Regions from separate parts of the Homo sapiens genome. Here all the other regions are linked to region 1. Evidence: fine-mapped expression QTL. A gene starts in region 1. Each other region holds a variant in brackets. All regions are shown on one strand. Distances are between the middles of the regions. Region 1 holds the start of PCID2 (PCI domain containing 2). Region 2 overlaps LOC124903216 (a long non-coding RNA gene). Region 3 overlaps CUL4A (cullin 4A). Region 4 overlaps PCID2 (PCI domain containing 2).

Region 1 (2,683 bases):
CGAGGTCTGTCTGCAGGGCGGAGGGAGAGCGGGCGGCTCAGGGCGCGCCGCGAAGCGCCCCGCGTAGCCACCCCCGACCCGGCCGGCGCCCCGGCGCCCCCGCTCCCGGGGCCCGCACGGATCTCGGGGCCTTCCCCCCAAGTCGGGCGGGGTCTCGTGGGGTCCCCGCCCGGGGCGCCTGGCCCTCGACCCGGCCGCCGCACCCACCTCGGAAGTTCTTGATGACCAGCTTCTTGGAGCCGCCCGCGCCCCCCGGCTTGGCGGGCGCGGCGGCCAGGGCCGCGGGCTTGGTGAGGCCGTTGGTGCGGCCCACGAGCGCCGAGAAGCTGCCCTTCCGCGGGGCCTCGTCCGCCATGGCTGGGCCGGAACCGCCGCGCCCCGCCCCGAGCGCCGCCGCCCGCCGAGCTCCGCTCCGCCCGCCCCGGTCCGCGCGGCCTCCGCCCCGTCCTCCTCGCGCGCCCCGCCCCGCCCCGCCCGCGTGCCCGAGCCCAACCGCCGCCGCGCCCGGCTACTCCTGAGGGCTTAGGAACGCGCGCCGGGAATCCCTCCTGAGGGATCGGACTCCCCCTAAGAGATTCGGACACCCCCTCCTGGCTCGAGGGCGCGCGCCGGGACTCCCGTCCTGAGGGATCGGGACCCTCACCCCCGGCTCCGGGGGGCGCACCGAGACCCTGCCCCCAGGGCTCCGGGCACCCCCTCCTGGCTCGGGGATGCGTGCCGCGGGCACCCCTCCTGAGGGGATCGGGAGCCGGGACACCCTCCTGAGGGCCCCGGGGCGCGCGCCTCCTGAGGGCTCGGCACCCCCACCCCGGGCGTGAGACCACCTCGAGGGCTCAGGGGTGCGCGCCGGGACGTGCCCTAACTCCTGCAGGCTCGGGAGCGCGCGGCGGAGGCACCTTATGAGAGCTCGGGAGCGCGCGCCATGTCCCTCCCCCTCCCCCTCCTCGGGCGCGCGCGCCCCGAGGCCCTGGCCCAGCCAGGCGCGGAGGGTCCTCCGCGGCCTGGTTTTCACAAGGGGCAGACGAAGGGTCAGCGCAGTGAAAGGCAGTTTAGCCGTGGGGCTGTCCTCGCCACTGGACCCCAAACCCCTCAGCCCGGGCGGGCCCGAACACACAATCAGAGCCGCTGGCGTCCCGGCTGAGAGGACGGGGCCCCGGCAGAAAGACCCCGGGCCCCCTCAGCCCGAGCGCGTCGCCGAGCCGGTCCCCAGGTTCTCCCTCCGGAACCAACCTGCGCACCCGCGGCGGGGCCGGGGGCGCCAGGACCCAGACGGACCGAGGGCCGGAAGTGACGCCAGCTGGCCCGCTTGAGGCGTAGGGGGTGGCGCTCTCCGTTCGGCGGCGCTCCCATGGCGCACATTACCATTAACCAGTACCTGCAGCAGGTGGGTCCTAGCCGGGGAGCGCGCGGCGGCGTGGTTGGCCCTCGGCGTGTTCCGTGTGTCCCCTCCTGCCTTGGACCCTCAGGCCTTTTCCTTTCCCGCCTCGCCACCCTTCTTCCGTTCGGGTCCCCGGCGGGCAGCCGCGCGAGCCGAACAGCGGCGGCCGGGACTCGGGAAGGCGGCCCGAGTTCTCCCCTGCAGGGCCGCCGTGGGGGCCGGGCGGTGTCCGTGGATCGCGGAGTCGTCGCGGTGTAAGTAGACGCGGCGGTCCCAGGTCGCTGCCCTCACTTGCTGGCACGTGTGGCCGCGCTCCCAGGCGGTCCGAAGGGCCTGCGGGCCACGCCGAGGGCCCGCTGTGGGCGGTGCTGTGTCGGATGGACGCTGTTTCCCAGCAGGATGCGGGATGAATTCGGGGACTCCAGGAGGCGATGGAGGAGTAAGCGCGAGGCTGTGGCCGTGCTGCAGGCCGGGCTCGTGCCCCTCGTCCTCGCTGTCGTTTAACGCCCTTCACTCTCCGAGCACAATGCACACTTCATATCGCTCGGTACATGCGTCTGACAGATGTTGTTCAACAGCTTGTAAGTAGCAGAAGCACAGTTAAAAGATGGACACTTGTAAAGATTCAACGCATATTCTTTCCACTAAACTATGCCTGTCTTCAGAACCAGCACTGTGGTAACAGGGATAGGAAATATAGGGAATGGATTTTTAAAATATTTGAAGGAAACATTACCAAGACGTGGTGAATAAGAATGGGTGGGCTGAGGGACACGGAGGAGTTAAGAATGATTCCCAGGCTTGTAATCTGGGAAAAAGATGAATAGAGTGGATTTGGAGGGAGAAATAAAGTTTTGGGCATGTTGAGTTTGAGGTGTCTGTTGACAACTGGGTAAAGATACGTACTTGATAGCTGAAAAGTCTGACATGATTGGGCCCAGCAGTTGCTTGGTTAATTGAGAAAACTGGTTAAAACAGGAATCACGAAGAAATGGATGTATGTTTTTAACTTAAAACATGAAAGTATACATTCACTTGCCAATTTTTTTTTTACACCACTTACCTCAAGTTCTATACTTGCCAATCTTTTGATGTAAGCCCAGGGCCTTTTCTTTAGGCTGTGTCTGTTTTGGCCTAATCTTAGCAGACTTAACATTTTCCAATATCAGTTTATTTAAAGTTAAACAAGGATATAGGCATTTAAGAACCAATTTGATACGATTATCTTTAGAATTTTCTTAATCTTTTACAATTTTTCCCCCATACCTAATTATTTTTTTAACAAACTCAAGTGAGCCTTTTAAA
Region 2 (2,683 bases), 53 kb after region 1:
GGGAGGATGGCAGTGCGTGTGCTGAGACGGCCAAGCTCCAGGAGGGCAGAGGGAAGCGAGGTTTGGCAAATTTGAGGTGTCTGTGGGATGTCCAGGTGGAGACAGGAGTGGGCATCCGAGAAGCTGGGACTCACAGTGGAGATTCAGGTGGTAACAGATGAAATGACAGCATTGTCAGCATATAGATATTGTTCGATTGAATGACACTCAAAGGTGGCAAAACTCAATGAAAGGATTCTAAATACAATTTTGTTAAAGTGGGAACAGAAGAAAACTAAGAAGCTGACACCCTTGATTAAGAGGGCATGCCCGCAAATACACTGAAGTTGTGAAGTTTGCTTTAAAAAGCTGGGAAAAGAAAATAAAGTTTATCTTTAGTGAGTGAGTTAAAATAATTTGAAAGCCAGAAGTTGATTGTATAGGATAGCTCTTGGGTGAATTGCACCAGCCTGGCAATCTACGTGGCCTTCACTTAAGAAAAGGTGCCTTTTTTTGTGTGAAAATGTATTCCCACATGGAAATTTACATTAAAAATACTTCTGCTGGATAGTTTAAAAACCATCAATAGCTGCCTAAAAATGGAAAGGCAGACAGGGACATACACATTCGATCAATAAGTGTTAATTAAGCACATCCTATATGCCTGACATGGGTATCTGAGCTACAACCTCTTCCCTCATGGACCATTTTAGTCTGTTGGGGCTGCTGTAACAAAACACCTTAGAGTGGGTAATTTACGATAAACAGAAACGTAGTGCTCACAGTTCTGGAGGATGGGAAGTCCAAGATCAAGGCTCCAGTAGACTCAGTGTCTGGTGACGGCCCATGATTCATAGACGTGTCCTTGGATGGTGGAAGGGAGGAATGTGGGTGCTCCCTGGAGCCTCTTTTGGGAGGGCAGTCATCCATCCATGAAGGCAGAGTGCCTCCCAGAGGCCCCACCTCCTAGTACTATTGCACAGGGGGTTAGGTTTCAACGTGAGTTTTGGGGGATGGTTTGGCTCTGTGTCCCCAACCAAATCTCACCTTGAATTGTAATAATCCCCACAGGTCAAGGGCAGGACCAGGTGGAGGTGATTGAATCATGGAGGTGGTTCTTGTGATAGTGAGTGCATTCTCACAAGAGCTAATGATTTTATAAGGGGCTTCCCCCTGTGATTGACACACATTTTCTCTCTCCTGCCACCCTGTGAAGAGGTGCCTGCTTGCCATGATTATGTTTCCTGAGGCCTCCCCAGCCATGTGGAACTGTGAGTTCATTAAACCGCTTTTCTTTATAAATTACCTAGTCTCAAGTATTTCTTCACAGTGACATGAGAACAGACTAATACAGGAAGGCATCAACATCGAGGCCACAGCTGTGATTGACTGTGTTGTACGTGGACTGACCGTGTTGTATGTGGTGATTTAATTTTCTCATCTGCCTTCTCAAAGATACCACCTTTGGACCAAAAATTCTACAATAATAAATTGTCCAAACATTAAGATTCACCTCGTTCT[A/G]CTCATCTTCCTCATCTCTCATATGAATAATCGTTCTTCTGTCACCCTCTTCTGTTCTGAAAAACAAACCAACCAACATTGGGACACTTTTTCCATTGACTGGTTTACTTTCCTTCTGTATACCTGAGGAGAATCTTCCTTCCTTTGGGGTCTTTGTCGTGTCCTTCAGATGTTGGGGTGTCCTCTGTGGGGGTCCCCAGCTTAAATCAACTGACCCCACAACTTTGTGTGGAACCTGAAATGAGCAGCCTATGGAGAACCTGGTCATTGAATACTTAGATCTTGCCGCAGTCCCTATTTAAATACCTGTTCAATCAACTCTGGGACCTATGTTTTAGATTTCAACATCTCTGAATTGGCCTGTTCCCTACAGCCAATGTTCTAATGTCAGCCTGGACAAGGCCGAGTTCTTCCTGAAAGGGGTTGTGCTTTATGTTGCCCCCTGGGGGCACTGCCACTTTGCAATCCCTTTAAATACATTTTTTTGTGTGAGTTTTGGGAGCCCATGTGAATAGTGTAAATGTATTGCAAAGCTGGTTCCTGGCTGGCCTGTGGTTTAGATTATCTGAGCTTCCCCCTCTTGCCTCCAGGCTGAGCTGACCCACAGCTAATTTGGGTATATGCTCTTTCTTTCAGGTTCATCAATAATGGTGCGTCTTAGATTCACAGAGTAGAGTGTGGTCTAGTCCACTTTGTGGTGCTGTAACAGGATATCTGAGACTGGGTAATTTATAAAGAACAGAAATTTATTTCTTACAGTTCTGGAGGCTGGGACATCAAAGGTCCAGGGGCCCCCATCTGGCGAGGGCCTTCTTGCTGCGTCATCCCATGGTGGAAGGTGGATGCGCGTGAGAGAGAGAGAGAGAGAGAGAGAGAGAGAGAGAAAGGGGAGAGAGGAAGGGGGCCAAACTCATCCTTTTATTCCAAAATAACGAACCCACTCCTACAATAGTGGTATCAATTCATTCACGTGGGCTCTGACAATGAATGCGTCTTAAAGGTCCCACCTCTCAACACTGTTGCCTTGGGATTAAGTTTCCAACACGTGCACTATAGGGACACATTCAAACCACAGCATGCTGCATCCTCTGATGTCCACATTGTGGATGGAGGTGGCAGCTTATCACCTGGAGCTCCTGAAGAAATTAAAGAGGAGACACATGGTGACGCAGCCCACAGCCTG
Region 3 (2,683 bases), 27 kb before region 1:
TCCTAATGAACTAAGGATAATTGTTCAGTTTAATTTGCACAAGAGTTAGGAAATCTACCTTTCTGCAGAATTGCTGTTAAATGTTCTCCTAATAGCTGTTTCTCCACACAAGCAATCAGTGGTTTCCTATATAAGGTAAAAAGAATAAGCGTTAGAAGTAAAGTTTAAAGAAGAGACTGGTTCTCTGCAAAAGATGGGGGCATTTGTCTATGACAGATGCAGTCTAGAGGCAATCAGAAACGGAAGGTTAAGAACATTTCCTCATGCAAACGGACGACGACTCCTGTTGCTAATGACGCTGAAGGAAGCCCTTTCTAAAAACCACCTACTGAACAGCACAAGCAGGCCCACGGGCGGGCCCAGGGAAGCAGGGATGCTTCTGCGTTATTCCAAGGATTGCTGATTTTAGCCATCTTCCCAAGCCTTCATTTCCAGTTTATAAGGAACGTTTTAATGCACCATCTTACGGAGAAGGGCAGAGCCGACATTCCGCCTTCTGCTTCCTACACAGGCAGAAAGGGCTCAGGGAAGCTGTGTGTGACCTGCACACCCTGGTTGTGGGGCTTCGCTGTGGCTGCCGCTCTCTCCACTATTTCCCCCGGACTTCCCTGGCTGCTGCTTCCCAGTCTCCCGGGGGCTGCTCTTCTGCTCCCAGTTGGAAGGAAGCACAACATGGCCCCCGAGCCACCCTGGCCTGCCTCGAGATCCTGGATTTCCCACAGGCTCCTCCAACTCCACACGTCTAAGTGACCAAATCTCTTTTTCTGCACCCTCTCTGTTTTTGTGCTGGATTCTGTCAGAATCCTTCCCCTTTCCGCACCTTACTGAGTCCAGTTCTGCACACCATATCATTTTCATCTCTCCTCCTGTTTTCTCTGCTGAGTCCTACCAAGTCCTGTTCTGCACATCTGTACATTTTATCATTCCCTACTGGGTCCAGTTCTGCACACTGTATCATTTTCTTTTTTTTTTTTTTTTGAGACGGAGTCTCGCTCTGTCGCCCAGGCTGGAGTGCAGTGGCGTGATCTCGGCTCACTGCAAGCTCTGCCTCCCGGGCTCATGCCATTCTCCTGCCTCAGCCTCCCAAGTAGCTGGGACTATAGGTTCCCGCCACCACGCCCGGCTAATTTTTTTGTATTGTTAGTAGAGACGGGGTTTCACCATGTTGGTCAGGATGGTCTCGATCTCCTGACTTTGTGATCTGCCCACCTCAGCCTCCCAAAGTGCTGGGATTACAGGCCTGAGCCACCGCGCCCAGCTGCACACTGTATCATTTTCATTTCTCTCCCTTGCTGTCC[C/T]CTCTGCCTCTGTCCTTGCCTCCCATCATATGGACACACTGTGCCTGACACACACGCTCACATAATCTCTCCCTTTTTGTTTCCCTAGCTACTCATCAACCTCAGGTTTGCAGGAAAAAAACATAAGATGAAAAGAGAAAATTGTGTGACAGCACCATAAATAAAATTAAAGCGATATAAAATGTGTAACAGAGAATGCACAATCAAAATAACCTAATATTCAGTGATACTCCATTAACATAAATAGACCGTCTCAAAACTCAAAGATGCCAAGTATCTCAGCAAGATTTACTCTCTTTAGACGTAACTCATGACAAGGCACTGGGTAAAAACTGTAATTTGTGAATGCCAAATAATGACAAATAACAAAGTAAAATATGCTAGGTGCAAAAACACTCTTAGTACTGAATGAATTGACAAAGACACCCTTTATTTCAATAACCAGCCAGGAGAACCTTCCAGCCATGGTGAAGATACGAACGCTCAGCGAGCAAACGGTACTTACTGTGTGCTGTGGTCCAAGTAAGTGATTACTCTGTCTCCCTCTTCCTCTAAGCGTTTACTTACATGGTTAAGATATTCTGGAACCTTACAAACAAAACAATTAAATGTATCAGTAACAAAAAGAATGTCGACACTATCCAAGAAATTGAGATTTTGTTTTCCTTACATGTAATTTTTTTAAAAAGCAGAATACATATTCAAGCCAAATATTAACACAGATTAACAGGGAGGGAGAGGTAGGACGGAAATGTGTGTGGGGGACATGGAGAAAGGACGCTGATATTAACATCCATCCTACAACAGGGCCCAGGCTGCACTTCTCTTTCGTCCCTGTGCACCACCAAGTTTCGGGGTCTGTGCACACCCTCCTCCCATCCCCAGGGCCCACAGGGAGCTGAGCCTCACTTGGTAGGAGGATGAGGTGCTAAATGGCAACCCTGCCCCGCACAGCTGGGTCAGCAAAAGCAAGTCAACAAGGTGGTTGTTCATTTGGGGGACACCAAACAACACGGTTGCAGGAGACCTCAAAGTACGCCCATGTTTCCCAAGACAGTGCGGGAAAGGCCTGAGGCTCTGCTGGGGTAGCTGCAGCTGGGCTCAGTATCTGACATGAAACTTCCTCTGCAAAGCCAGAATGAAGGAACCAATGGCTAAGGTCCATTCTGGCAGTAGCACGCACCATTTGGGTGACAGTCTATGGGGCAGGTTCCTTTATGATTTTGCTCTGGTATCTGGAAAGGTGATTAAGTTTTTTGGGTTCCTATTACTACTACATGTTTTTTCGCACAGCTTTTTTTGGGAAAATTTTTTGCAGTGCTTCACACAAATGAAAAATTTTATCATTTACATTTATATTTTTAAGTTTTCATGTATGTTTTTAT
Region 4 (2,683 bases), 32 kb after region 1:
ATTTGCCTTTGCTTTGTTGGTTAAAAAAAAATTTCTTTTAAAAAACCATCTTAAATTGAAAATACATTTAATACACCTGCTACTAAACATTATGGCTCACTCTAGCCTTCCTTAACATACTCAGAAGCCTCCACTCTTAGGCAAAATCAAACACAAAGCCGATTTTATTTTATAATAAAGTGTAGATGCCGGGCGTGGTGGCTCACGCCTGTAATCCCAGCACTTTCAGAGGCCAAGGCAGGCAGATCACCTGAGATTGAGAGTTGGAGACCAGCCTGACCAACATGGAGAAACCCCGTCTCTACTAAAAATACAAAATTAGCCGGGCGTGGTGGCGCATACCTGTAATTCCAGCTACTCAGGAGGCTGAGGCAGGAGAATCGCTTGAACCCGGGAGGCAAAGGTTGCAGTGAGCCGAGATCATGCCATTGCACTCCAGCCTGGGCAACAAGAGCGAAACTCTGTCTCAAAAAAATAAATAAATAAAAATAAAAGTGTAAATACCTCGTGTAGCTTACCGAGTGCTACACTGAGAGTGGAAACTGAAGGGCTGCGTGGACGCTGAGGCATGGCTGCCCCTGAGCGCGTCCCTTCGGCACCACGGCGAGGTTGACAGTCGCTAAGTTGGGCCACTCACATTGGGCTGTTGGGGCTGCCATCACAGAATACCACAGGCAGCTTAAGCAACAGGAATGTATTTCCTCACAGTTCTAGAGGCTGGAGGTCTGACTGAGATGGGGTTGCCAGCACGGTCGGCTTCTGGGGAGGGCTCTCTTCTGAGTTGCACACTTAAGAATAAGGTGGTATTCTTGCTGTGCTAGAGATGGTACAGATAGAGATGACTCTCTCCCTCCTTTTTTGAGACAGGACCTCACTCTGTCACCCAGGCTGGAGTGCGGCAGTGCAGTCAGTGCTTACTGCAGCCTCGACCTCCGAGACTCAAGTGATCTTCCCTCCTCAGCCTCCCAAGTAGCTGGGAGCACAGGTGCATGCCACCACACCCAACTAATTTTTTTATTTTTTGTAGAGACAGCGTCTTGCTAATATTGCACAGGCTGGTCTGGAACGCCTGGGCTAAAGCAATTCCCCCACCTCGGCCTCCCAAAGTGCTGGGGTGACAGGCATGTGCCACCACACCCGGCTCTCTTCCTCTTATAAGGCCACAGTTCTGTTGGGTTAGGACCTCACCCTTATGACCACATTTAGCCTTAGTTACCCCCTGAAGACCTTACCTCCAGATAC[A/G]GTCACACTGGGGCTAGGACTTCAATGTAAGAAATTTGGGGGACACAGTTTAGTCCCCAGCACTGCCATTTTTCAGACTATGCACATTTCCCCGTTTATAAAAAATTTACTAAAGAAGAACACAAACTATAAGAGCTCATCTTTGCAAAGTTACTGCATTTGAAAGCTGCTTGTTCAAGGAGAGGCTATTCTACAAAGTGTGAATCCCTCTTTCTCTCTCTCCGGGCCGCGCGGCGCAGGACTCACTTTGTGTGGCTCCTTCCTCAGGTTCCCCTGGATGCAGGAGCTGCCCCAGGGCTTCAGCAGCACTCCTTAGCTCGCTCCTACATCTGCAGGTCTGCAGTTTCTTCCGGGCTGGGCGGGGAAGCTTGTGGGCTCTTCTGGGGCCCGAATGGGCCTCTTTGAAGGTGACTCATTCCCGTGTATTGGCCCGGGCTCTCACCTGGAGCTCAGCAGGGCTGTGGGTGGGCTCCCCTGTTTCTCTCCACACGTAGGGAGCTGGATTCTGGGAGCGCAGATCCCAGTAGAGCCAGGGAAGCCAGATCTCTTTTATGCCCTGCTCTCCTAAGTCACACCCGGATTCCAGCCGTGGACTGCCACACGTACACGCGAGAGATGAATGCACGAAGGCAAGCGCCTGTGCCTGTGGAGTTCATGCCAAGGATCCTCTTGACCTACGTAGCTGCTCCCCAGCAGCAGCAAGGTCCTCAGCGCTGGCAGTCGTGACAAGTGCCTCCTATGTCCTGTGGGGCAGACACGGAGCAAACTCATGCCGGCGGAGGCTTTGGGCGCGCATCTGTTTTCTAGCTACCCATGTGTCCAGTGGGGCCCCGTTCTCTTGCAGTGTTGGGTACGGAAATCTGATCTTCCCTGCTGCTCTGCATGGGCCTTGAACATCCTTCAACTTTTGACTTAAATGATTTTCTTGCAGTAATTTGAATATTGGAATTTCTGCCAGCATACCTGAATTTCATTCTGGATGTAATAGCGGTGGAAAGCTCAGGTTTGTCAACATTTCTGGGTAACGTATTGAACCGTCCATAGTGACACCTAAAGTCAAGGATTGATACTTTAAGGTAATTGGATGGTTATTCTTAGCGATGAAAGAAACAACCTCAGTGTAGGTGTCCTTACGTTTACCTCTTGGTGTTCAGGCCTCTGTCAGTTCGTTCTCACGCTGCTATAAAGAACTGCCCGAGACTGGGTAATATGTAAAGGAAAGAGGTTTAATGGACTCACAGTTCCACATGACTCGGGGGACCTCAGGAAACTTACAATCATGGCGGAAGGGGAAGTGAGCATGAGCAAAACTGCCACTTTTAAAACCATCAGCTCTCGTTAGACGCCCTCACTGTCACGAGAACAGCGTGGGGGAGCCGCCCCCGTGATCCAATCACTTCTCCACACGTGGGGATTACAATTCAAGATGGAATTTGGGTGG

Evidence for each region.
Region 2: its variant is fine-mapped to the expression of PCID2 in whole blood (INTERVAL, PIP above 0.99).
Region 3: its variant is fine-mapped to the expression of PCID2 in whole blood (TOPMed, PIP 0.95).
Region 4: its variant is fine-mapped to the expression of PCID2 in whole blood (TOPMed, PIP above 0.99).

Annotation. Positions count from the first base shown.
Region 1 is chr13:113,207,300-113,209,982 of GRCh38, reverse strand. It overlaps PCID2 (PCI domain containing 2), which reads left to right and starts at 1,314. Exons shown (of 14, transcript NM_001127202.4): 1 at 1,314-1,384. The coding sequence starts at 1,349. It overlaps CUL4A (cullin 4A), which reads right to left and starts at 370. Exons shown (of 20, transcript NM_001008895.4): 1 at 208-370; 2 at 1-10. The coding sequence starts at 355. RefSeq lists silencers at 1-114, 175-504, 605-874, 1,135-1,424 and enhancers at 959-1,608, 1,609-2,259.
Region 2 is chr13:113,154,690-113,157,372 of GRCh38, reverse strand. LOC124903216 (a long non-coding RNA gene) reads right to left here. Exons shown (of 4, transcript XR_007063880.1): 1 at 2,508-2,683; 2 at 2,258-2,316; 3 at 1,493-1,556; 4 at 763-843. Among named protein-coding and RNA genes, the nearest start is that of F10-AS2, 2.0 kb to the right of the region's middle. The variant A/G (reference allele first, on the strand shown) is at 1,501.
Region 3 is chr13:113,234,266-113,236,948 of GRCh38, reverse strand. CUL4A (cullin 4A) reads right to left here. Exons shown (of 20, transcript NM_001008895.4): 8 at 1,804-1,886; 9 at 59-126. Among named protein-coding and RNA genes, the nearest start is that of CUL4A, 26 kb to the right of the region's middle. The variant C/T (reference allele first, on the strand shown) is at 1,299.
Region 4 is chr13:113,174,940-113,177,622 of GRCh38, reverse strand. It overlaps PCID2 (PCI domain containing 2), which reads left to right. Exons shown (of 14, transcript NM_001127202.4): 14 at 1-87. Among named protein-coding and RNA genes, the nearest start is that of PROZ, 18 kb to the right of the region's middle. The variant A/G (reference allele first, on the strand shown) is at 1,243.